4 separate regions of the Homo sapiens genome follow, and regions 2, 3 and 4 are each linked to region 1. Evidence: fine-mapped expression QTL. A gene starts in region 1. Each other region holds a variant in brackets. All regions are shown on one strand. Distances are from middle to middle.

What was found. PIP is the estimated chance that this variant, and not a neighbour inherited with it, causes the effect. A credible set is the group of variants that fine-mapping cannot tell apart.
Region 2: its variant is the best candidate, but not a certain one, in a credible set for the expression of RRBP1 in neutrophils (CEDAR, PIP 0.81).
Region 3: its variant is the best candidate, but not a certain one, in a credible set for the expression of RRBP1 in lung (TOPMed, PIP 0.72).
Region 4: its variant is the best candidate, but not a certain one, in a credible set for the expression of RRBP1 in thyroid (GTEx, PIP 0.85).

The regions. Positions count from the first base shown.
Region 1 is chr20:17,679,254-17,685,219 of GRCh38, reverse strand. RRBP1 (ribosome binding protein 1) reads left to right here and starts at 2,978. Exons shown (of 25, transcript NM_001365613.2): 1 at 2,978-3,192; 2 at 5,145-5,221. RefSeq lists enhancers at 2,308-2,367, 3,621-4,293, 4,485-5,684 and silencers at 2,648-3,067, 3,298-3,627, 3,658-3,707, 3,738-4,047.
Region 2 is chr20:17,636,347-17,642,312 of GRCh38, reverse strand. RRBP1 (ribosome binding protein 1) reads left to right here. Exons shown (of 25, transcript NM_001365613.2): 5 at 394-516; 6 at 5,584-5,736. Among named protein-coding and RNA genes, the nearest start is that of RRBP1, 43 kb to the left of the region's middle. RefSeq lists enhancers at 4,698-5,571, 5,572-5,966. The variant C/T (reference allele first, on the strand shown) is at 3,504.
Region 3 is chr20:17,840,472-17,846,437 of GRCh38, reverse strand. The region is part of intron 1 of LOC107985440 (a long non-coding RNA gene); the gene reads left to right. Among named protein-coding and RNA genes, the nearest start is that of SNORD17, 120 kb to the left of the region's middle. The variant G/T (reference allele first, on the strand shown) is at 2,616.
Region 4 is chr20:17,703,142-17,709,107 of GRCh38, reverse strand. All of the region lies in intron 1 of BANF2 (BANF family member 2), which reads right to left. Among named protein-coding and RNA genes, the nearest start is that of BANF2, 6.2 kb to the right of the region's middle. The variant C/A (reference allele first, on the strand shown) is at 2,984.

The sequences.
Region 1 (5,966 bases):
TCTTCCAACCTGGAACTCTTGGGCTCAAGCAGTCCTGGGGCTAGCTGGAGCTGCATGGGCACACCACCACACCTGGCTAACATCATGCCTTACTTTGCCCATGCTATTCCTCGCCAGTGTGCCCTTTTTGGCCTGGCTACCTCCCACTTCTTCACACCTCTGCTGTCAGCCTCTGCTCCCCTCAGGGTGGGGTAACTCCCCCGGCTGGGGGCTCCCAGACTGCTGACTTTGTGTTGAAATGACCTGTTCCCATCTGAGAGCCCCAGCCTGGAGGCTGGACTGTGGGATGGGCTTTCTCGTGCTGCTGGAGGGCTGCATGATTTAGCAGAAGACTTGAGCCTGGGGGGATGCCTCTCACTCCCACCACAGGCAACCCTTGTCCATCTAGTCCTAGGGATGGATCTGGTTTTTCCCAGATACGCCTTGGGAGAGCTGACGAGGCTGCAGGGGGTTAAAGATGGGTGTCCACAGGCACAGCAGTGGCTGTCAAAGTCGGGCCACCCTGAGGGTGTGCAGATCTGCCCTGACAGAGCCTGGTGCAGCGGGACTGATTTCTTTGCCCAAAGGGCATGAGGATGATGAGGCTGGAAGTCTTCACAGCACATTGGGGCTGGCTGTTGGCAGATGAGGGGCAAGGACAGAGGAAATGCAAAGGCTCAGACAGGGCTGCTCTTCCATCCCGAAACAAATGTTGTGTTGAGGCCAAATCAAATGTTAAGTTATGTAAGGGAACAAACAGGGAGCCCCTTTTCTGTAAACACTCCTCACTCCTAAGGACTTTGTAATGTTATCGCTCATGGGACAATATTTACAGAACACGTATATTCACAAGCCTCTATTCTGTGCAGGTGCTGTGTCGGACTATGGTTCACAGTGTGGGAGACACTGCTGTGGCCCCCGACATGCCTCCAGGCACTCACCATTCTGCCAAGGGCTTCTTGCTGCAAGGCTTTCTCCAGCTTGATGGGGGCGGGGGTTAAAGTCCCCCCAGAAGAAGCTGTTAACCAATGAGGACTGGGAGTGGCTGGATAAATAACCAGGTCCTCACCCCTCAGCTGGGACGTCTCTGGGGTGTGTTCTACAGTTTCACAGCATCCCCAGAGACGCCGAGCCCTGTGTGCCCACACCAGTCACAGGCTTGATGTTGGTCCCCTTATTGGCTCCTGCTCATCCCACTTCTCCACCAATGTTTCTTATGATTATCCCCCAAATGAATGATTGAACAAACCCTACTGCCAGGATCTGCTTCCGGAAAAAGATAAACAGTGAACAGGATAAAGGAGGTCCCTGTCCCTGGACAGGCCCTTGAGGGCAGCTGGGTCTTCACTGGACCTATGTGTCATTCTAGGCTGCTTGCCCAGCTTAGCACTGTATACCGGGCACTCCACAAACACCGGTGAATGAATGAATGAATGAATGAACGAATGAATTTCCTCCCTGAAACCCAGAGGAAGGAGTGATTGTCCTAAAGGAGTATACCCATGTTCAGAAAGGTTAGATGGCCCAGCCCTGGTCAAGTAGGACTCATTGGTAGCAATTGCCAGCCAGAAGCTGGGATTCTTGACTTTCATTTGAAGCCGGGTCTCACTGCTGGAAAATGACTGAGTGTTCCAGAGTTAATCCAGGTTAATTCCTGCTGATTAATCATTAATGGGCTAAGGAACCGCCAAGATTAAAAATAGGAATGAACAGTTTAATTTCAACCCAATCGCTCTTTATTCCCCATGAAGGCTTGTATTTTTCACATCTTTCTAACAACAGCTAGTACAGTACTAGTGACAAATGGGGACAGGGAAGATTGAAAATTGTCCAAGAAATAGATGTTAGGCACGGGATTCTGCAGCAACAGGAGCTAGGGAAGTGATGGGGGGCAGTCTAGGCAGCCTTTGGTCGCTCAGAATCCAAAATTCCAAAGAAGCTGGCTTTGGCTCAAGTTCAAAGGGTTGGCTTTAAGAGACGCTGACATAATGGTTAAAAATCAAGCCTAAAATTATTTTAATTTAAAGACTTGACTAATTATGAAGACTGAGTGTTGGCTGATATTGGGGAGAAAGTCAGGGAATGAGGAAGTACCAGTTGCTCCGTTTTGTGGGACACGGATGAGTTTTCTTAGGTTAGAACCTCTCACCTTCCCCAACGCATGGAATAAAACGCCACAGAGTGGATTGTAATTATTGCTCTGCCGGCTGTGATTTGGTTGAGTATCTTAAATAGACCGTGCCTCAGTTGTACCCTCCCTAACAACGAGGGCGATGACATCCGCTTCAATTCCTCGTGCACCTTCTGGCTCTTCCACCCCAATTCCTCCATTTACTGAAGGAAATTCCTTCTGGTGCTGATTGCAATCTCTTTGATGATAAGAACTTGCTCTCCCTGGGCTGACCCCCAGCAGAGCTTGTCCTCATACCCGGCGGCCCGAGGGGGCGCTGCTTCGGGGGAAGTTAGTTGGGTTTAAATAAAGCAGCTTCCTTGGCTGTTCGCGGTTGCGCAACCCTGTTCAGCCACCGCCATGTCAGCCCAGCGGTATCCAGAGGCGCAGGCCCGGGGTCGCCGGGACCCGAACCTTCTGCTTCCCGCCTAGGCAGAGCCGGATCCTAGTCAGAGACTGCTGGGAGCGCCGCGGGCCCAGAGTGGGCGGAGCTGGCCGGAGACCCCCCCCTCGGTGGGCGGGGCGTTCCTGCTCCGCCCCGCCCCGCGCACGGCCGAGCGCCGCGCCGCTCGGCCCCGCCTCTCCCCAGCCCTGCCCCCTTCACCTCCCCGCAGCTCCTCCCCTCTCCCATTGGCCGAGGTGGAGACCCTCCTCTCTGCCCAATGGCCGCCGCCGCGGCTCGGCCACCCGCGTCCTGACTGGCCAGCGACCGGCAGAGTGGCGGGGTGCGGACCAATGGGAAGAGGCGGCTCGATGAATGGCTGGCCCGGGTGGGGAAGGCAGGAGGCGGCGATCCCGGCGGAGGGGGCCGTTCGCCAGCTCTGAGGCAGAAAGTGCCACGACTCCACACGCGCGCACGCAGCCAGCGAGCGGCCGGAGCGGACGGCAGACGGGGCGGGCGGCGTCAGGGTCGCAGCGTCTACAGCTGCTCGGGGGCGGTTTCTTGGCGGAGGCTTGGCCGGCTCCTCTCTCCCGGCTCCGCGGCGGCTGCGAAGGCGGCGGCTCCTGCCCTCTCGCTTTCCCTCTCGCGTCTCTGGCTGCAGGTAAGAAACTTGGCCGGGCCCTGCAGCGGCCGCGCGCGGGCCGGGCCGTCGGGGGGCCGGGGCCGGCCGCGCTGCGCCGCGAGTGACACGTCTCCTCGGCGGCCCCTCCCCCGGCCCGCCCGCCGCCCGCCGCCTGCCGCCGCGGCCGTGCACCATCGGGGTCGGGGTCGGACTCGGGGCGGGGGTGCCGGGCAAGCGCCGTACCGGGGCGTAGGCAGGGCGCGCCCCGTGGTGTGGACCCCGCGGCCCTCGCCGTCCGGGGAGCTGCGGCGGCAGACGGGCGCGACGTGGCGACCGCTCCCTGCCTCCCTCCCTCCCGGCAGGGCCGTCGGGCCGGCCAGCGCGCTCCGAAGTTGGGCGAAGAAAGTTGGCGGCGGGGCGGGGCGGGGCGGCGCACAGCTGGCGGAGGAAGGGGTTAAGTTTCGGGAAGCCGCCGGATGACGTTGCCGGGCTGGAGTCCGGGCCGGAGGGGTGGGGTGCGGGCGGAAGGCGGCGGAGGCCGGCCGAGGGGAGGAGGGCGGGATTGAATGGGGGCCCACGGGCCGAGCGCGCCGGTCCCGGGCCGCGGCCCGCTGGCGCTTCGCGGGGCTGGGACGGCCCCCGACGGGGCGGGCCGGGGCCGCAGGGCTCGCGGCGCAGGGACCGGGTCTGTCCATGGCACGGACGCCGGGCGGCCGCGGTGGCAACTTCCCGGAGTGCGGGAGGCGGCTCCCTGCTCCCCCTGGCGGCGGGGCCGGGGCCACCGTTTCCCCGGCTGGGCTGCGCGGAGCCTGGCTCGAGGGCTCCCGGCGGGGGGACGAGGGCGCCCGGGGCCCGGCCCGCCCCGCCCGCGGCCACGATGAATGGGCCGGCGGTGCCAGCCCCGGGCGGAAGCGGACACCTCCGGGCCGGCCAAGCGCGCTGGCACCCGGCCTGGTGCCCGCCCCGGCCCGGCCGGCTCTCCCGCTGCGCCCTGATTAGGGGAGGCAGGCCGGGGTCTGCGCTTCCAGTGGGGCGCCCGCAGTGCTTCAGGGACCCCTCTCCGAATGATAAGTCGCGAGTTTTAGCTCTAGAGTGCCCCGGCTGGCGAGGGTGACCCCGACCAAGTTGTTTCGTTCGGGGTCTCCATTTCCTGGTCTGCAAATCGGGGCTCCTGTTAGCTTCGATTTGCGAGGAAAGCTGTGGAGACCCAGCACTTGTAGGAAGGAGCCACAAGTGTTGGCTGTTCAGTTGGGATGCTTTTGTTGGGGGGTGCTGGACACGGGAGGAAGGTGGGGCCTGGCTCCGGCACTGCGGCGGGCGCGGGGCTGCAGAAGTTGCACAGCCGGGGTTCTACACCCCGGACCACGTACTGGCCGCCTACTCGCAGGTCCCATAGCCCCTCTGAATCCTAGTTTCTTATCTGTGGCCTGAAGACAGCACCACCCACTCACAGGGTCGGGAACCACGCCGGGAAGTGCTGGGACCTTGTACAAACAGAAGGCAATTTGGCAATTACTCTGAGAGGTCAGAGGTTAGGAGAGACTGGGAAGCACCAAGGAAATGAAACTCTGAGGGACCTGAGGAGCCTCCCACGTCACTGCTCAGCTATTCACTCTGCGTGCTGGAACCTTCAGGGTAGGGGCCATCTGGATGGCATTTTCAGGAATTTGGAGAAATGGGCCTGGTAGGGCCTCATATCTCACATTAGATACCTCTTCAGAACTGGGTGTCCCCAGAGACCCAGGACGTCTGTCTGGCACTCCCAGGAAGAACAACTGCGAATGTTACCCCGCCCTGTGCAGCTGGGGGGCATTCTCCCACTGCCCCGCCTCCCTCCTCACACTCCTTGTTTGATTTAACTTCCTGTTAATCCGACACCTAGAGAAATCTGTGACCCTGCAGCATGTCACTTACTGTGTGATGTCTTGACTCGTTTACGAACTTGCCAAAGGTCACTCCCACTATCATATGCCAACCTCTTTCCCTTCCAGAAAGAAGCTTCCGGTTCTGAGGTCCTGGAGGTGCCATTTCCCTCTCTGTTGAAGCAAAGGCCGGGGCAGACCTCCTAGTAGGTGAAGTTTTCCTTTTACATGGAGCACCGCAAAGCCGGCTTGCAGGGATCTTGGGCCAGTGGAGGCCTGGAGGAGGCTAAGGTTGGGGGAGGGGAAACCAGAAAGGGATCTTGGGGTTTAGGAGAGGGTTTAGAGCTCTAGGCACTATAACAACTCTCACCTTTCATACTTAGGAATCTGCCTCTGAACATTTACAGAGAGATTAAGAAGTTACAGTGGTTCATGGTATATGAGTATTTTTTGGTGATGGAAGAGTTTTAAATAAATCTTAAATCAAGTCACATTTGAGCAATTATGCTCTTTAATGAAATGAGCCCTAACTCAACAGGCTGCAATAATTACATAGCAGCAAACTCAGTTTAAATGGTTGAATGCCAGTGATTGAATTGGAGTATTGATTTATTATGTAGCAGGGACACCTTTTAAAAGTGTCGGGACCCCAGACTCTTCTTGTCTTTTTAGCCCTGGGAATTTTAACTAATAGATGAATGACACATAGAGGATCAACAGTTCTGTTGAGACAGCAAGTTTTTCTTTGCTAAAATCTTGTTTCAGGAGAAACAAAAATAATGGTCAAGTCAGAATGATGAAGGCAGGGACTGTGCTGTCCGTCTGTGCATGCTGGGCCTGCAGTGGTTAAGGCCTGGCCTATAACATCATAAATATTGGTTATACCAGGCGGACAGCGCCCCCATACCTGTTAAACTATTCCCAGCTGTCTCATTGGATAAATGAAGCTTA
Region 2 (5,966 bases), 43 kb after region 1:
TCTCCTCAGGTCACTGTCCTCAGAGTACCCGGCCCCCATACTGCAGCCAGAGGCCTACGGGCTGCACGCCCGGCTCGGGTAGGCTCCAGGCCAGAAATGGTGGCCAGCTGCCCCTCAGAGGAGCTGGCAACACCACACTCCTAAATGCCACTCCAGGGATTCAAAGCCTTTGGCCTTGACAGTCCCAACACACGCTGGGTCAGGGGTCCCGGCAGGCTGATGGCTGAGGCGGGGCCGCCTTTCCCCACAAGTATCTGGAGTCCCAGTGGAACCCTTGACTCGAAGCCCCTGCTCCACTTCATCAAGCCCTCAGGCCTCTGCTCTTGTCCGGGGTCAGGGGATGAGCCAAGTCCCATTTGTCCCCTCTGTTAACGCATCTCTGGGTATTTCTAGGCCACTCAGAAGGGTGACCCTGTGGCGATTCTGAAACGCCAGCTGGAAGAGAAGGAAAAACTGCTGGCCACAGAACAGGAAGATGCGGCTGTCGCCAAGAGCAAACTGAGGGAGCTCAACAAGGTACAGCCTGAGTGGGCTCGGAGATGGTTTGTCCTCTCCCGTCCTCAGAGGACCCCCGCCCCATCCACGGTGGATCCCGGGCTCCGAGATGCTGGGGCCTGCCTGGAACGTAGCTGGCTGTCAGGCTGCTGAGTAGGGACTGCTGCTTATCTGCTGCCTAAAGAGCCAAGGGCCGGCAGCTCACCCTTGGCAGTGCTCGTGGCTCTACGGCGTGGTGGCTTCCTTCGTGGCTGTAAGAACGCAGGGAAGTGAAGCAAGGGTTTGGAAGTTAAGCAGCATCAGTTTGTGATGGGGATGGACCAGACCTGGCTTTCACTAGACAGGTCCTGCAGTCACAGGCCAGCTTTCTAGGGGCTGTGCCTGGAAAGGAGGGTGGCCACAGTAGATTCAAGGTTGTTTTCTTGAGGATTATGCAAAACCTTGTGGGGAGGGGACTGGAGGGGCTGCTCTTCTCCCTTTTTCTGATGTCAGAGGAGGGATGTGCAGGGAAACCCTGGCTCCCCGTATCAGCGGATGGCGTGGCACGTAGCATTTGCACTCTGAACAGCAAACGGTGGTGGGTTGGTGCTGCCATAGGACGGGGCTGATGGCACGTTGAGATTGTGTTGGGATCCATGGCATAGGGGCTGTTCTTCCCACTGCAGAATTCACCGGGGTCTTTCCCCACCTCTCTGCTGCTGAGGGTGGGCCCTGGTGCCCCAGCCTTCCTGGAGGAAGGGCAGGGTGAGGGGCCCCCTGGCCCTCTGGGACTGGTCAGGCCCTGTTGAAAGCCGTCTTTGCCCCATGCAGCACCGCAGGCTTGCTCTTGCCCTCTCCCTGCCTCCCTGCCTTCTCCATCCCGGGCAGCGGGCGCAGGGGGAGGGCCTGGATGGTGGACTGTCCAACAGTGTCTGGGCTACAGCCCTTCTTCCGGGTGCCTTTGTCTGCTCGAGCACAAAGAATTGGAAGTAAGGCAGCCTTACTTTTTGTCGCAAATTCAGGGTCACGGCTCTGAGCCAGATGGGAAGTTCACTGGGTGGGGGATGGGCAGGACCAGAAGACACACCTTAGATGGCCGCTCTTCGATGCTGCTCTCCACCCTGCTGGGGTGGTAGAATATCTCCCTGGCTGCATGCTCAGGGCAGCCTGTGGTCCTCATTCAGTACCCAGCCTCCTCGGAGACCACTGGCCTTGCCTCTTAGGTGAGGAGAAGGTTAACGGTGCGTGGCCTCCCTTCCACCCACACTCTGCTCCCTAAGCCGGAAGAGGTCCTGTTGGGCTCCCAAATGCTGATCTGTGAGGACCCCCATCAAGCTCTGCCAGGGGCCCCTAATCTTCAGACCTAAGTCTGCCCCCCAGGCCCCAGCTCAGCCACTCACCCTGCCTCTGGCCTCACCTCTTCCCTTTCCCTACCTGTGCTCAGACATTCTGTGCCCTTTCGTGACTCCTCTGGGGCTCTCCTCTTGCTCTTCCCTTGGCCTCTAATGCCCTTCCGTGCTTGGATGTCTGGACATTGTCTTCTTACTCTGGAAGACTCAATTTGGTTTCCCTCCCTCAGGAGCCTTCTGGAGCTCCCATGTTCCTGTTCTGCACAGAGGTCATTGGTACAGTTAGGCATCACCTGGCTGCATCTGGCTCCTGTCAGACCTCAAGCCTGGTGGCGCAGACCCACTCTGGTGGTCTCACCAGGCTCAGCCTAGCAGGCCGCCAGTGATCAAGTGGCCACTGAGAGGGCCAGGCCACCTCGCAGCTGAGGGGAAGCCTGGAAGCATTTCTGAGTATTTTACATTGTCTTCTTGTAAATAGTTAAATGTTTGTAGTCGATGCCTTTGGCCGTTTCTCTTCCCTGTGCTCGTGCTCTCTGTTGAGAGTCCTGAGCAGAGCCGATGTGTTTACCTTATTCTTTTTTTTTTTTTTTTTTTTGAGACTGGAGTTTCACTGTTATTGCCCAGGCTGGAGTGCAATGGCACGATCTTGGCTCACTGCAACCTCCGCCTCCCGGGTTCAAGCGATTCTCCTGTCTCAGCCTCCCAAGTAGCTGGAATTACAGGCAAGCGCCACCATACCCGGCTAATTGTGTATTTTTAGTAGAGACGGGGTTTCTCCATGTTGGTCGGGCTGGTCTCGAACTCCCGACCTCAGGTGATCCGCCCACCTCGGCCTCCCAAAGTGCTGGGATTGCAGCTGCGAGCCACCGTCCCTGGCCTGTTTACCTCATTCTTACGGTAACACTGCAACTGCCCAGCACTGCTGAGGGAAATGTTGTGAGACAGTAAATTCCAGAGAGTGTGGCAGTTCCTCTTACCTTAATCCCCCTCGGGAGCTGGGGAGATGGATGGAACCTATGTTTCTTGTTCTAGTCCCTTCGACATGTTTTCTTTGTCCTTGTAGAGAAGTTTTTATAGTTGAAAAGGGTTTTCATTAATTCTGTTTCTTGGGGTCTGATGCTGAAGGCATGATCTGGACACACTGAGAAAGAAAATTTGGATCATCTGCTGTATCCAGGTCTCCCAAATGTGCGAAGTCCCAGCAGAGTTGGGTTCAAGGACCAGTCCACACACTGTCTGCAGGAGTTGATGGGCTCAGACGCCCTTGAGAACTCTGTCCTGGCTGTCTGAGAATCTCTTGGGGGTTTGAGGAGTCCAGGCAGAGCTCCAGTGATGTAACCAAGAAGGCACAACCTTCTGGAAAAACATTCCAGCTGTCATGTTCCTGGGCACCAGAACCTCTGTCCTGAAGCCATGCCTCGGACTGGCCCCGTCCTGGGCTTGGTCCCGTGTTCTGGCTTTAGGGCCCAGAAGGAGATGGGGCTGTGAAACAGAAGGAGCCCCAAGGCCCTCTGGGACCCTCAGAGGGTTTACCTGGGGATGGGGTCACGGGAGGAGTTCCTGTTACCAGGCCTTCTTGGTGGAGGTTGCTTCCTTGCTTGGCTGGGAAAGCAGGTTGGAGGGCTCTCTACAGTCCTCAAAGCTTACACCATGAGGGGCCCCACTACTCCTAGGGAACAG[C/T]GCCTGGAAGAAGTAGGGACAGAGAGTCACTTCTGAGCCAATGCTAGTGATGGTGCCAAGCCTTGTCTTCTTGTGCGCCGGAACCCCCCCACCACCATCAGGAATGCTTTTCAAGGAAATAAATCTGACTCTTGCAACTGAATTAAGAATTTGACAAGCAGAAGGAACCCTGGGTCTCTGAGCTCTTTGAAGAAAAAGAAACCATAGAGAGCTAAACAGCTGCACTGAGGACAAGTGACTTTTCTCTGCTCTTTAAAAAGCCTAGAGGCAAAAGAGGGGGAAGATCCCATTGAATCCTGGCGGCCTTGGGACGCTGACCCCCAGGAGATAGGGGTCTGCAGACCCTGAGCGGGGTGGACCTTGGAACTGCACGAGGCCTGCCCAGGGCTGGGAAGGGTGTCTCCAGGTGGCAGAGGAGGGCTGAGGATGACCCAAGTGTGGCTTCCCAACCAGCCATCCATGTGGCTGTGGGAATGCCTGGTCTCCATGAGCTTTGGTTTCTTCGCAAGGCTGGACCATCTACTTGGAAGGGCCGTTGTGTCGGAAACTCAGCAAAGAGAGCGGCCTCCTCTCTGCTGGTGTTGGGAGGCTTCCAGCCATCTCTACCACACCTGTCTGCCAGCAGTGGGCCGGTGGGGCCACGTGTGTTAGAGGAGGAAGTGCGGAGGGGTCCTGGAATCACCGCTAAGCTGTCCTCCCTTTCCCCAGGGGCTTCCCAGCCCACACAGAAGGGCAGGCGTCCTCATTCCTCCCCTTTCTGGGAACCCCTTGGTCTTGTACAGTCCTAGGTTTGGGCCCCACCCCTGCCTCTTAGAGCTGCTCCCCAGCCTTGGACAAGTGTGTCCTCTCCAAGGCTCTGTGACCTCAGCTTGGATGGGGATTGTAATCCTCGTCTTCCAGAGAAAATTAAATGGGACAGTGCTGGGGCGCAGTGTCAGCTCATCCCGCCCCCCACTTCTGTAGCTAATCAGTGAAGCAGACCTGCAGGTTCCTGTGGGCCTCTCACCCCGGGCAGAGCCAAAAAGATGATTGTCTTTGAAAAGTGAGGCCAAGGGTCCCAGGAGGTCCCAGAGAGTACCAGGAGCACGGAACAGCACCAGCACCCAGTGGCTCCTCCTCAGGGTTCTTTCCCATCTCAGGCAAGAGGGACACTCTGGCCTTTGGGACAGGCCTCCCTATAGTCCTGGTCTGGGGAGGGGACGGACTTCCTCACTCCTGGCCCACTGCCCATGGAGCAGCCTTGACGCTGGTGGGACGCTTGTGCCCTGGTCACTCAGGCCTGCTGTGTTTATGATATGTATTCACATCACATCAGTGCTGGTCTGTCCAGGCCTGCTAGACAGGGAACACCCCCACCCCAGGGGCTCATTGTGTCAACCTTTCCTTGAGTTGTCACCCTGCCTCCCTATGGTTTCTGGTTGAGGCCATCCCTCTGGGATGACACAGACCATGGCCAGCCTTCCCATCCTGCTCTGTCCCTGCTGGAGACGCCGGACCCCCCAGACTCGGCATCCATGTTCACCTGTGGGTATCTGGCACTGATCGGAGCCGATGTCCCCCTGGGTGGAGGACAGAGCGACCGCCTGCAGAGATGCATGCCCTACCCCCAGCCACGGCGGAACTGGCAGCTGGCCCCACCCCCACCCTAGCCATCAGGGCTTGGTGCCTTTCAGTCCTGATGAAGGCACTTGAGTAGAAGTAGGTGTCCCAGGGGCCCTGGATGTTGGTGACTGAGTCAAGCTGGGGTGTTGTCATCACAGCAGGGCCGAGCCAGTGCCCTGGAGAGCCAGGGACAGCACCGTGTGTCTCTGCTGTTCCTGCCGCATCTGCCACCTCCACTGTGGCCAAGGCCTGACATTGAGCCCACAACCGGCCAGGGCCAGCAGGGTTTCCAGGGATCCCTTGTTGTCTGTCGTCGTTCCCACTGCAGCTGGCTTGAGTCTAGCTGAGAACCCGGCCAGCAGGAGGGGTCTGTGCTCTGCTCTCCAGCCTCCCAGCTCGGGTGATGCTCTTGCTCCCTTCTGATAGGCTCCTGCCCTGCAAGGCTTACCAGCCCCTCTCTCTGCTACTTTCCCCCCAGGAGATGGCAGCAGAAAAGGCCAAAGCAGCAGCCGGGGAGGCCAAAGTGAAAAAGCAGCTGGTGGCCCGGGAGCAGGAGATCACGGCTGTGCAGGCACGCATGCAGGCCAGCTACCGGGAGCACGTGAAGGAGGTGCAGCAGCTGCAGGGCAAGGTGGGTGTAGTGGCTGGCGGGGGCATGGGAAGGGACAGGACCCAGTCCAGGTCCAGGACGGAGGGAGCCAGAGAGGCCCAAAGGGTGAGGCATGAGGAGGGGGTTGAGGATGCCCACAGGGGTCTGTAAGGTCTGGTCAGGTTTAGGAGTCCAGGGGCTGTTGCATTTGGCTGGACAGGGTCTGGCAGCCCAAGTGTGTGTATAATGTTAAAAGCCAGGGAGGTATGAAA
Region 3 (5,966 bases), 160 kb before region 1:
TTGGACAAGTGAGTAGAAGCCTGGAGGGCAGAGGCGGGGAGAGCTCAGGGTGTGTCTCCCTGCTCTGCTTCTGGGGGTGTGTCAGGCAGTGGCTGCCTCTCTGCTGCGGCTCCAGCTCCTGCCAGAGGCCCCAGAACCATCAACTCTGATGACCCCACCTTGTCCCTTTGTCCTTTCCTGTCCCAGCCCTAGTGATGGTAGCAGTGGCTTCCTGTTGTTACTAACCTCTGGGTGACCTCGACATCCTCATATGGCTGTTCATCAATTCAAAGCTGCAAAACAAGTTCCCTCTATTAAACTCCCTGGGTTGGAAGATCTAGCATGGTTTTGGTTTTGTGCTGGGACCCTGATCCGTACAGAAATGACAAGCAGGGCAGTGTCTGGTGCCAAGAGGAGGGTCAATGTGTAGCACTCAGGTCTAGAGCTGTGGCCCCTCGTGGGCTTATGACAACATCACCAGCTAACCCCTTCTCTCAAGCGAAGAGCTCAACCCTGCCTTCTCGCCTTTCTTGATCAAAGCCCTGACTTAGCTCTTCGGCATTTTTTTTTTTTTTTTTTTTTTTGAGATGGAGTCTTGCTTTGTCATCAGGCTGGAGTGCAGTGGTGCGATTTTGGCTCACTACAATCTCCATCTCCTGGATTCAAGCAATTCTTCTGCCTCAGCCTCCTGAGTAGCTGGGACTACAGGCCTGCGCCACCACACCCAGCTAATTTTTGTATTTGTTTGTTTGTTTTTTGTTTTTTGTTTGAGACGGAGTCTCACTCTGTCACCCAGGCTGGAGTGCAATGGCATGATCTTGGCTCACTGCAAGCTCCGCCTCCCAGGTTCACACCATTCTCCTGCCTCAGCCTCCCGAGTAGTTGGGACTATGGGCACCCACCACCATGCCCGGCTAATTTTTTGTATTTTTAGTACAGACTGGGTTTCACCATGTGGGCCAGGATTGTCGTGATCTCCTGACCTTGTGATCCACCCGGCTTGGCCTCCCAAAGTGCTGGGATTACATGCGTGAGCCACTGCACCCAGCCTCTTTTGGCATTTTTAGTAACATGACCCAGTGTAAGGGAATGGGCTCTGGCAGCCCTGGGTTTGAACCTAGATTCACTATTAGTAGCTGGGTGACCTTCAGCAGGCCGCGTCAACTCAGCTGCATTATCTAAGCTCAGGGGATAAGAATACCTAATTCACAGAGATGGTATTTGTAAAGTACTCAATAGAGAGTAAACAGTCAGGTGTGAGGGCTCATGCCTGTAATCCTAACACTTTGGGAGAATGAAGCAGGAAGATTGCTTGAGCCCAGGAGTTAGAGACCAGCCTGGGCAACATAGCAAGATCCCATCTCTAAAGAAAGAAAGAAAGAAAGAGAGAAAGAGAGAGAGAGAGAAGGAAGAAAGGAAGGAAGGAAGGAAAGAAAAGAAAGAAAAGAAAGAAAGAAAGGAAAGAAAGAAAGAAAGAGAAAGAAAGAAAGAAAAAGAAAGAAAGAAAGAAAAGAAAGAAAAGAAAGAAAAGAAAAAATTAGCCAGGTGTGGTGGTGCATGCTTGACCTGCTCAAGGTCACCCAGCTAGTAATAGTGAATCTAGGTTCAAACCCAGGGCTGCCCTACTGCAGAGCCCAGTAATCCCAGCCACTTCCGAGGCTGAGGTGGGAAGATGGCTGTAGCCTAGAAGTTGGAGGCTGCGGTGAGCTGTGATTGCGCAATTGCACTCCAGCCTGGGCAAGAAGTGAGACCCTGTTCTCAAAAAAGAAAAAAAGGAAAAGAAAAAAAAGTATGGTGTCGTGTTTGTTGACTGTTATTAATCAATATTATCACCACAGACCCTTCCTTCAAGAACGTGGGATCTTTTCACCCGGTTGTGTGCGAGTGGACATTGAAATGGCTCACTTCTGGTCTTTCTAATATCTCTTGATATGAAGAGTGCAAAGACTGCTGGGAAAGATGGGAACATTTGCACAGGGGCTGAGAATCATGGGAAGAAAAGGGAAGAGACCCAGAACCTTTCCTTTCAATGTTGGCCTGAAAACATCTTGAGTAGATTGAGATCATCACCAAAAGGCTGGGGACCATGATGGAGAGCTGAGTCTGGTGGAGTTGAATTTGCCCACACTGGGCCCACAGGTTTGCTTCTACCTGGCATGTCTTTTCATTTCTTGTCCATCCAGCAAACTTCTATACATCCTTCAAGACCCAGCTGAGTTAAGGCCTATGGTGACCTTTGGTGACATCTCCAGTAGAATTAAACCCCATCATTCCTTCTGCTCTCAGCACTTGCGCATACTTCAGTGGTGGTGCCTACACACCCTCTTCTGTGAACTCTTAACGGCTCACACATCCTCCCGTCACCATGCCTGTCACATCCCTGCAGGAGTAGGAGGAGCCATGAGGGTAGTTGGTAACTGCTGAGCACTCACTGCATGTCAGGCACTGTGCTGTGTGTGTGATGCGTGTCACCCCACTGGCCCTCACCACTTCCTATGGGGTGTCACCACTTTACAGATGAGGGGACAGACAGGTGTACAGACCCATCGCTACCTGACTCTGGAGGCTGCATTCTCAACCTCCCTCATTTTGCTTGTGAACCCCAGAGAAAAGGGATCGGCTTATACCCTCCTTTG[G/T]GTACCCAGTAGCTGGCAGGATGCCTGTCACCAAGTGGTCACTTAAATGTCGGGTGAAATAAAGGAACATTCCACGGTGCTGACATGCCAAGGTTTATGAAACCACTTCCCTTATGTTGCTGTGAATATTTCTGAGCACAGCTCTCTTTCTTGGGCTGGATTATTTTCTTTGGGTCAGTTCCTGGGAGTGGAATGACTGGGCCACGTCATCTTCCACCTCCCAGAGCCGCTGGCAGTGAAGGAATAAAGCTGTTCTTTGCTGCCTTGCAGGCCAGGCCCTCTTCTCACCTTGATGTGGCTCCAATGCAGGCGCCCTGGCAGGCCTGAGACAGCTACACTGAGTCCTCTGGAGCCAGCGGTGGGGCCCTGTGCGGTCAGCGAGCCAGGATCCCCAGCACCACCCAGCACCCACAGCCCTTCCTCCAAACCCTCCCCAGCTGCCTCATTGGCAACTGGATTCTGTCTGGGGGCAGGGATCAGACCTGCAGGCATCCTCCCTGACCACACCACTGCCTCTGGCTTCCTTATTTGGAGGGTAAGAGATGAGGAGGTAGGAGAAGAGAAGAGGGCGGATGGAGGCAGCACAGGGAAGAAAGGATTGGGCAAAGGAGGGCAGGCCATAGGGAAGGGGTGGCCCCGAGTCCGTGCCTGGGGGTTAAACCTCCAGCACCCCATCTCATTTCTCCAGGGCTGGGGCAGATGGCCCTCCCGATTTCTGCAGACCTTCCTCCAAATCCTCAGCTCACAGAGGGAAAGGCGAATTCTCACTCTGGACAGGGACTCTGACCTCAGGTCCCTCGGCTGTGCTGAGAGCTCAGGGGTGGGAGAAAGCAGGCAGAGGGATGCTGGTGCCCCTGCCCTTCCCATGAAGACCCCCTTTTTCTCTGTCTCCTCTCCTTTCCATCCATTTATTTCCTTATCTTCCTTTATGGGTATTTCCACTCCAGTTACAAATGGGAGAAGACCAGGGATGCCCAGTTAAGACCAGAGACATCTCGTTTAGCACAGAGTCACCCAATTTAACTCAGAGACACCTGGTTAAGGGTGTCCTGACCAGTTGAGACCAATTTTTGTATGTTTTATGGTTGCCAGATAAAATCCAGGATGCCCAGTTCAATTTGAATTTCAGATGGGCAATGAATAATATTTTTAGTATAAGTATGTCCCAAATATTGCACAGGACACACACTAAAAAAAATTCATTGTTTATCTGAAATTCAAATTGAACTAGGCATCCCATATTTTTATTTGCTAAATCTGGCAAAGACAGTGCATTTCTCTTCTTTTCCTGAATTTTAAACTCTTGGGATTCGGCATCTGCCTCCCATCCTACTCCACCAACCAGCTTCCCTCTTCCACCTTTTTGGTGGAAATTTGACTTCTCTTAAACCCGTGCTCTTTTTAATTTCTCTCCTTCCCTGGGTTTTATTTAGTTAAACAAAGTCACACTGGGTCTCCATTTCAAAGTGTTTGATGTTATTACTAGATACTGGGGTTGAGGCAGTCTAAGCTTTTCGAAAGGTTTCTTCAGGACATTGGAGGGAAATTAAACCTTGGAAAATATGCTTGACATTTTTTTTTTCTTTCTAAAAAGAAAGTCTGTGCGTTCAGTTCCCTTATGGTCACGGGAGCACAAACAGTGGAGTTAAGGCCAAAAAGCTCATTTCTCAAGCCGCCACCAGCTGCAGCCCCGGCCAATAAATGATTTATCTCCAGCTGCACGGGCCACTTTCTCAGGGTTTCCATCCTCAGCTGAGCTTGTTCAAAGAGGCCTCGAACTTGTAGGCTCAGAGGGATCCGAGGAACTAGCTAGACCAGAGCTTCCCAAACTACCATGTCCAACAGGTCACTGGGGGAGCTTTCACCAGTCCCATGCTCAGGCTGACACAGCCTCATCAGCTCAAAATCACTGGAGCTGAGACCCAGCCATCACGGAAAAAAAAAATAAACTTGGCCAGGCGCGGTGACTCATAATCCCAGAACTTTGGGAGGCCGAGGCGGGTGGATCACTTGAGGTCAGGAGTTCGAGATCAGCCTCGCCAACATGGGGAACCCCCATCTCTACTAAAAGTACAAAATTTAACCGAGTGTGGTGGCACACGCCTGTAATCCCAGCTACTCTGGAGGCAGAGGTAGGAGAATTGCTTGAACCTGGGAGGCAGAGGTAGGTTGCAGTGAGCCAAGATCACACCACTGCACTCCAGCCTGGGTGACAGAGTGAGACACTGTCTCAACAACAACAACAACAAACTCCCAGATGATTTTAGATTGAGACCCAGTGAACCAGAGTGGTGCTTCTCAATGGCTCCTGGAAGTTGATGGACAAGGACCCCAGCTCCCCGCCTGTTGGTTGCAACAACTCTGAAGTATGTGACCCTCTTCTATTGGTCACCCCTGTCCTCAGTAGCCCATCCTCCCACAGCAGTAACTGGCTCCAGTAAGCCCCCTTTCTTGGCTTCTCTTCCCTGTTTCTCTTCCACATTTCTCTATGGTGCTTCTTGAGATCACCTCCCAAATCACCTACTTGTACTCAAATCCTTCTCTCTGATTTTGACCGTGGTTTATGATAGGTCACTGTTGCCCACAGATGGATGGTTTAAAATGCAAATTCTCAACTTAACAGGCTGCCCAGAATGGCAGAAGACCCCAGTTTTTGGAGCCAGGCAGACAAGGCACAAATCTTAGTTTGGTGGCTTAGACATTCTAAATTACTGTGGCATTTTCCGAGTCTCGGTTTTTAAAATCTCTAAATTGGGGTTAATAATGGCTGCCTGTTGGGGTTGTTGAAGAGGATAGAATAAAACAGCTTCTGTAGAAGGTAGAATAATAATTTCCTATTTTCACTTCCCTGTAGTAGCATTAATATTAGATGTCCACACTCTTGCTATGGCCTCAGGTGGCAGAGTATACTTAATGTCCCTTAGCTTTGGTCTTAGCCATGTGACTTGCTATGGTCAAGGATGTTGACAGTCATGATGTAAGTGAAGGCTTGAGTGGGCTTGTGCTGTTAAGCTGGCTCCTGCACTTTTTTACCATCATTGTAGAAAATAATTTTTTAGGTAGCGCTGGTTCCAGAAGTATAAGAAACATACTAAGCAGAATTGAACCCATCCGATGGCCAGGAGTCAGGCCCAGCTGAGCCCCGCTTAGGCCAGCCAAATTCCATGTAACCCGAAGATGTTGTATGCTGTGAATTTTGTTACACAGCTTTATTGTGGGAATAGCTGACAGATACACTATTTATAAAAACACCTACACAGGGCCTGGTACATCGTAGAGGTCCAGTAAATGCCAGTTGCTGTCTCTTTTCATCACATACACTAACATGGGAGCCAAGACATTTCCCTGATT
Region 4 (5,966 bases), 24 kb before region 1:
GTTCTATCTGTTTGATTTGTCTCCATTCAAAGCCACATTCTCAAGGTTATAAAGAAAGGATTTCCCAGATTGTCATTGCTTTCATTGATTGCATTATCACCTGAGCAGTATCTTGCAGAAACTATAGATAGGAGTTTCAGTAATTTCTAAATAGCTTTTGGTGTTTTATAACATCAGAAGATAAGCTTGCCATTTGTAAACATGCGCTTGGACAAACAACATACACGCATTCCTTAGGAGGAAAAGAATCTGTTTCTGGGCCTGGGAAGGGTGGTGTTCCGCCTCTACTAAGGGTCAGTTTCAACACTGGATTGTTGGGAAAGAGTTTAAGCTGGAAAAAAGATCTCGGTTTCAATGATCTTCTTAAAATCAGCCACCCTTTGAGCATCTATTAAAAGTTCAAATCACGGGTTGCAAATGAAAAAGCCAGAGGGACAAGGCAAATTAAAAAAATAAAGCAGTGAAGAAAACAGTGCAAGGGCGCTGATAAAAGAGGACCAACATTGGACATCCACTGAGGAGGTCACAAAAGTGCTATGGACTGTGTAGCTGACTGAGGTCCCAGACCCCATCTAAAGGAGGCCACCCCTTTCTGGAATGTGGGTCCCATGTGACTGGCTCTTCTGAGTCTTTTCAAGAGAAGCCCAACGTTTAGATTTTTATGTACTAGTATCCAATTTTTAAATGTTGGGAAATCATTCAAATATTCATAATGCTGTATGGACCCAACAAAACAAAGCCATGCCACGGTTTGTCTCTCCTGCTATGGACCTTCCTTCAAGAAAAATGCCCCCTTGCACATATAAATACAATTTGACATCATATTTCAGGCTTTTGTGGATCAGGGATCTCAGGTTTTTTTCTGTTTGTTTTTGTTTTTGTTCGAGACATATCACTTTGTCACCCAGGCTAGAGTGCAGTGGCATGATCTCAGCTCACCACAACCTCTGCATCCTGGTTTCAAGTGATTCTTCTGTCTCAGCCTCTCGAGTAGCTGGGATTACAGGCATGCACCGCAACACCTGGCTAATTCTTTTTGGTTTTTTTTTTTTTTTTTTTTTGATTTTTAGTAGAGACAGGGTTTCACCATGTTGGCCAGGCTGGTCTCAAACTCCTGACCTCAAGTGATCCATCTGCCTTGGCCTCCCAAAATGCTAGGATTACAGGCATGAGACACCGTGTCCAGCCCGTAGTCAAGTTTTGATTCTTAAAAAACAATCTTGGCTGGGGCTGGGTGCAGTGGCACACGCCTGTAATCCCAGCACTTTGGGTGGCCAAGGTGGGTGGATCATCTGAGGTCAGAAGTTCGAGACCAGCCTGAGTAACATGGTGAAACTTCGTCTCTACTAAATACAAAAAAATTAGCCGGGTGTGGTGGCACATGCCTGTAATCCCAGCTACTCGGGAAGCTGAGGCAGGAGAATCACTTAAACCCAGGAGGTGGATGTGGCAATGAGCCGAGATCGTGCCATTGCACTCCAGCCTGGGCAATAAGAGCAAAACTCCATCTCAAAAAAAAAGTATATATATATATAGGATCAGGTCATTCTCATCTTGAACCTTGGACATGGTTTCCCTGGGACATGTTCTGACCTTCCCTGTGAAAAATATCTACAAACAGTGACTGCCATTCTTGCCTCTGCTGTACTTCCATCTTCCTACTCGGGGACCACATGCTACTCCCAGCATCTTCCCTTAAATCCTTACTGGGATTTTCTTTTTTTTGACACAGAGTCTCGCTCTGTCCCCCAGGCCAGAGTGCAGTGGTGCGATCTCGGTTCACTGCAAGCTCCACCTCCTGGGTTCACGCCATTCTCCTGCCTCAGCCTCAGTAGCTGGGACTGCGCCTGCCACCATGCCCGGTTAATTTTTTGTATTTTTTTTTTTTAGTAGAGATGGGGTTTCACTGTGTTAGCCAGGATGGTCTCAATCTCCTGACCTCGTGATCTGCCTGCCTTGGCCTCCCAAAGTGCTGGGATTACAGGCGTGAGCCACTGCGCCCGGCTGGGATTTTCATCTTTAAAGCATCCCTGGTGAAGCTTTGATTTCCAGTGCTTGCAAACCCATCTGAAAGTGCCAAGATGTGGTCCCCGGTCTCTTCCCTCTGTGTGGCCCTTGGGTGTTGGTGGCATTTAGATGTTGATCAAGTCATGCCTGGCCCTAGCTCTGCTCTAGAGGTTTGGATCTGTATATTCCATCCTGCTCACAGCGTCTACTTGCCTGCATGGACTTTGGATAGAGTCACCTGGAAATGACCAAAGATACACATATGCCATCCCTCCTTCTTTGCAGAGAAGACGAGAAAGACCTTTGCACTGATCTGCACTCTGAGCCACTGCCATCTGCTCATTGAATGCTACCCCTCTCTTAGTGGCAGTGAAAAGGCAGAAGGAGCCACACCTGGCTGGATTTGTGTTTGATCTTGGCTTTACCCTTTACTTGGTGGATCTGTTCCTACCTCTCCATTCCTGCCATCACTTAAGGATCCCCTACTACGGATGGGCTAGGTGTCTTGCTAATTCACAGACATCTTATTTAATCCTCACGACAAAGCTATGATGTAGGAACATATCTGAGCCCCATTTGCCAGATGAGGAAATGGGGGCTTAGACAGTTTAGTAACATGCCCAAGATCATATACTTGGCGAAGAGAAGAGCCAGAGCTTGAATCCTTCGTGTTAAGCTCATACCTGTGAGTTCAGCCAACTAACCAACAGCTACTTTTTTCTTCTTGATCTATATGGGTCATGATAATCCCCAAGCCGGGTCACTGAGTGGCTTAGAATGAGCTCATATGAAGTGCCCAGGTGAATGAGGGTCTCAAAGGTAATGTTGCTATAACAATCACCCTCACGTCAGCACACCCCAGCCCTGACCCACAATCTCTCCCTGGATTTAAAGTGTGTACTTGGCTCTAGGAACCTTCACCCTTCAGCCTGGCACACTTGGTGTCTGTCTGTGCTGACTCTCCGGATTTGGCCAA[C/A]CTTCAAGCCCCTTCAACCTCATCTATGCCGTCACCTTGCCAGTTGGGTGGCTGCGTTTTCCTAAGTACAGACCCATGTGGTTTTCTGCACCTCTCAATAGTTCCCTCAGGCATGCAGCAGTGAGGGGCATGTCCCAGGCAGGGGTTGGGCACTTTGGGTGCCCATGGGCCCTCACAGGAGCAGTGCCATAGAAGCCCACAAACCCTTATGCAGGGATATGTGGGAGAAAGGAAAACACACAGACTCCAGACAGCAGGAACACAACCAGGAGGACAGGGCTGCCCTGAGGTACAAAGAGATGCTTCTGCACAGCATGAAGTATGCCTCAACATAGCATCTGGGGTAATCCCAGCATGAACTAGTTGCATAACCTTGCCCAAATCACTTTCCCTTCTTGGCCTTAGTTGCTTCATCTATAAAATGGGGAGGAATAGAGTTAGGTTACTAATTTTCCAAACAATAGTCCCTAGGCCTCCCCCCATTCTCAGGGATTCACAATGTACACCAGCCTATTTACGGCTTTGAAAAGTCCTGTAAAGCTAGGGAACTACTGACCTGGCCTAGCCCATTATCTTTTACCTTTCCTAGACCAGACAGCCTTTTAAGTAACATCAGTTAGCTTCCCTTGAACCAGTGTTCTGTGGAACATGCGTTGGCTAATTTTCAAGATTCTTCTGGTGCTAAAGATCTTTAATTCGACAGCCCCTGAGTCTGTGCTAGGGATTGGGAGGCCTGGTTAGCTGTGGGCCCTCTGGAATTTATGAGGCTCCCGCCCTCTGTTTTCTCAGCCATCACACAAGGACTTCAACACCTGTTCTCATGATCAATTGGGACAATTTTTTAGCTTTCTAACTGCTCTCCCTTCTCTCCAATTTTACATGGAGAATCACCTCTTCCTGCTTTCATCCAATGTGGCTTGGGTGGGGCCAGTCTCCCACTTGGCTCCAGGGACACACATGACCAGGCCTCGCCAATGAGGTAACAACACACATGACCAGGCCTGGCCAGTGAGGTAACAACACACATGACCAGGCCTGGCCAGTGAGGTAACAACACACATGACCAGGCCTGGCCAATGAGGTAACACATCCTCCTGGCCACAGTGACTGCATCATTGTGGACACGCGACCTCAGCTGGGCCAGCCAGACAGAATCCTGGCACTTTTGCCAGAAAGATTAGGCAAGAAGTGGTGCCCCCTTCTTGCTGGGGTTGCTAAGTGAGTGTTCGTCTCTCCTTCCACTTGTGGGGGATCCTGTCAGAGCGATCCTGGCAATGCAGAACTGGAGATGGTGACAAGTAGTTTCTTGACAACATCATTTGAGGGCCTAGATACAGCCAGTCCTGAAGCCATATGTGCTCCAATCAATCCTTTGCCTTTTAACTAGTTTGAGTTTAGTTTCTAATCCTAACTGAAAGAGACCCATTCCACCAATTTTACAAGGGACACAATGATAATTAAATGTTAAAGAAGGAAGAGGCCTTAAAGGCTGATAAAGCAATGCATGAGAAGTGCTTGGGAGGTAGGATGGGACAGTTACCCTATGTGGGCACAAGCCCAGATGCCTGGGAAGAAGGGACCGATCATGTAGACCTCAGCAACAGTGGGTAATGCTTAACCCAAAGAAGTGCTGTCCACTCTAGAAGTGGAATTGAGGGCCCTGCAATGTCAAACCTAAGCATAGGCTCAGTCCTGATAGGATGCATTCTAATACAGCCTTGCTACTCCACGTGCAGCCTGTGGGCCTGCAGCTTTGACGTCTCTTGGAGTTTGTTAGGAATGCAGAATCTCAGGCTCCACTCCAGACCTACTAAATCTGCATCTTAACTAGACCCCAGATGGCCCATGTGCATGATCAAAGTTGAGAAGCACTACCACAGCACTGTTGAAGTGACTGTGTAGCGTGTCCATAGACCCCTTCCTGCTGGTATGAACATCCTGCCCACCCACCAGGAAGTGGACAGTTTCCCCTCCCCTTTTATCTGGGCTCTCGCCCTATGGCTTAGTTAGCCCGGTAGAAGGTGATAAAAATGGTGCTGCCAGTTCTGGGCCTGGCAGCCTCTGCTTCCTCTCTCAGAAGCCAGCTGGGGACAGTGGTTCACACCTGTAATCCCAGCACTTTGTGAGGCCGAGGCAGAGGCCTGAGGTCAGGAGTTTGAGATCAGCCTGGCCAACATGGTGAAATCCCATCTCTACTAAAAACACAAAAATTAGCTGGGCATTGTGGCAGGCACCTGCAATCCCAGCTACTCAGGAGGCTGAGGCAGGAGAATCGCTTGAACCCAGGATTGGGAGGCGGAGGTTGCAGTGAGCCAAGATCACACCACTGCACTCCAGCCTGGGCAACAGAGCAAGACACTGTCAAAAAAAAAAAAAAAAAAAAAGTCAGCCTACTTGCCCTGAGACCTCCATGCTGTAAGAAAACCCAGACAAACCGCATAGAGATGTTTCTTGGAGAGCCCAAAAGTCCCAGCTGTGTGAGTGAGGCCTTCTTGGGCCACCCTGTCCAGCCTAGCCCCCAGCTGAGTGACCCTCAGTGACACAATGTGGAACTGAGTCCTGCTCACATTCCAGACCCAGAGAATTGGAAGAAATACGAATCTTTGCTGTTCTAGGCCGCTGTGCTCATGTTATTTTGTCACACAGCAGAAGTTACTGGGGCCATGACCGCCTTTCCTCCTCACTGAAGGAGGGGGCTGTCCTGCAGAATGTTCACACACTGTAAGCACCATACTGAGCACTTTCTGCCTCTCAGGCGCTGTTCCAGGCACAGAGATGGAGTGGGAGAGGGCAGACTGCATCCCTGCTCTGGTGAAACTGGGATTTTTATCCAGGGATAGGGCAGTAGACAAGAAAACACACAAACGTAACTTCAGAGAGATAAGGAGCAATTGGAATGGGGCTGGGGACACAATTAGGTAGAATAGGGAAGATCTTTCTGAAGACACACACTTGATCTGAGGCCCTCCTGTTGAACAGGGGC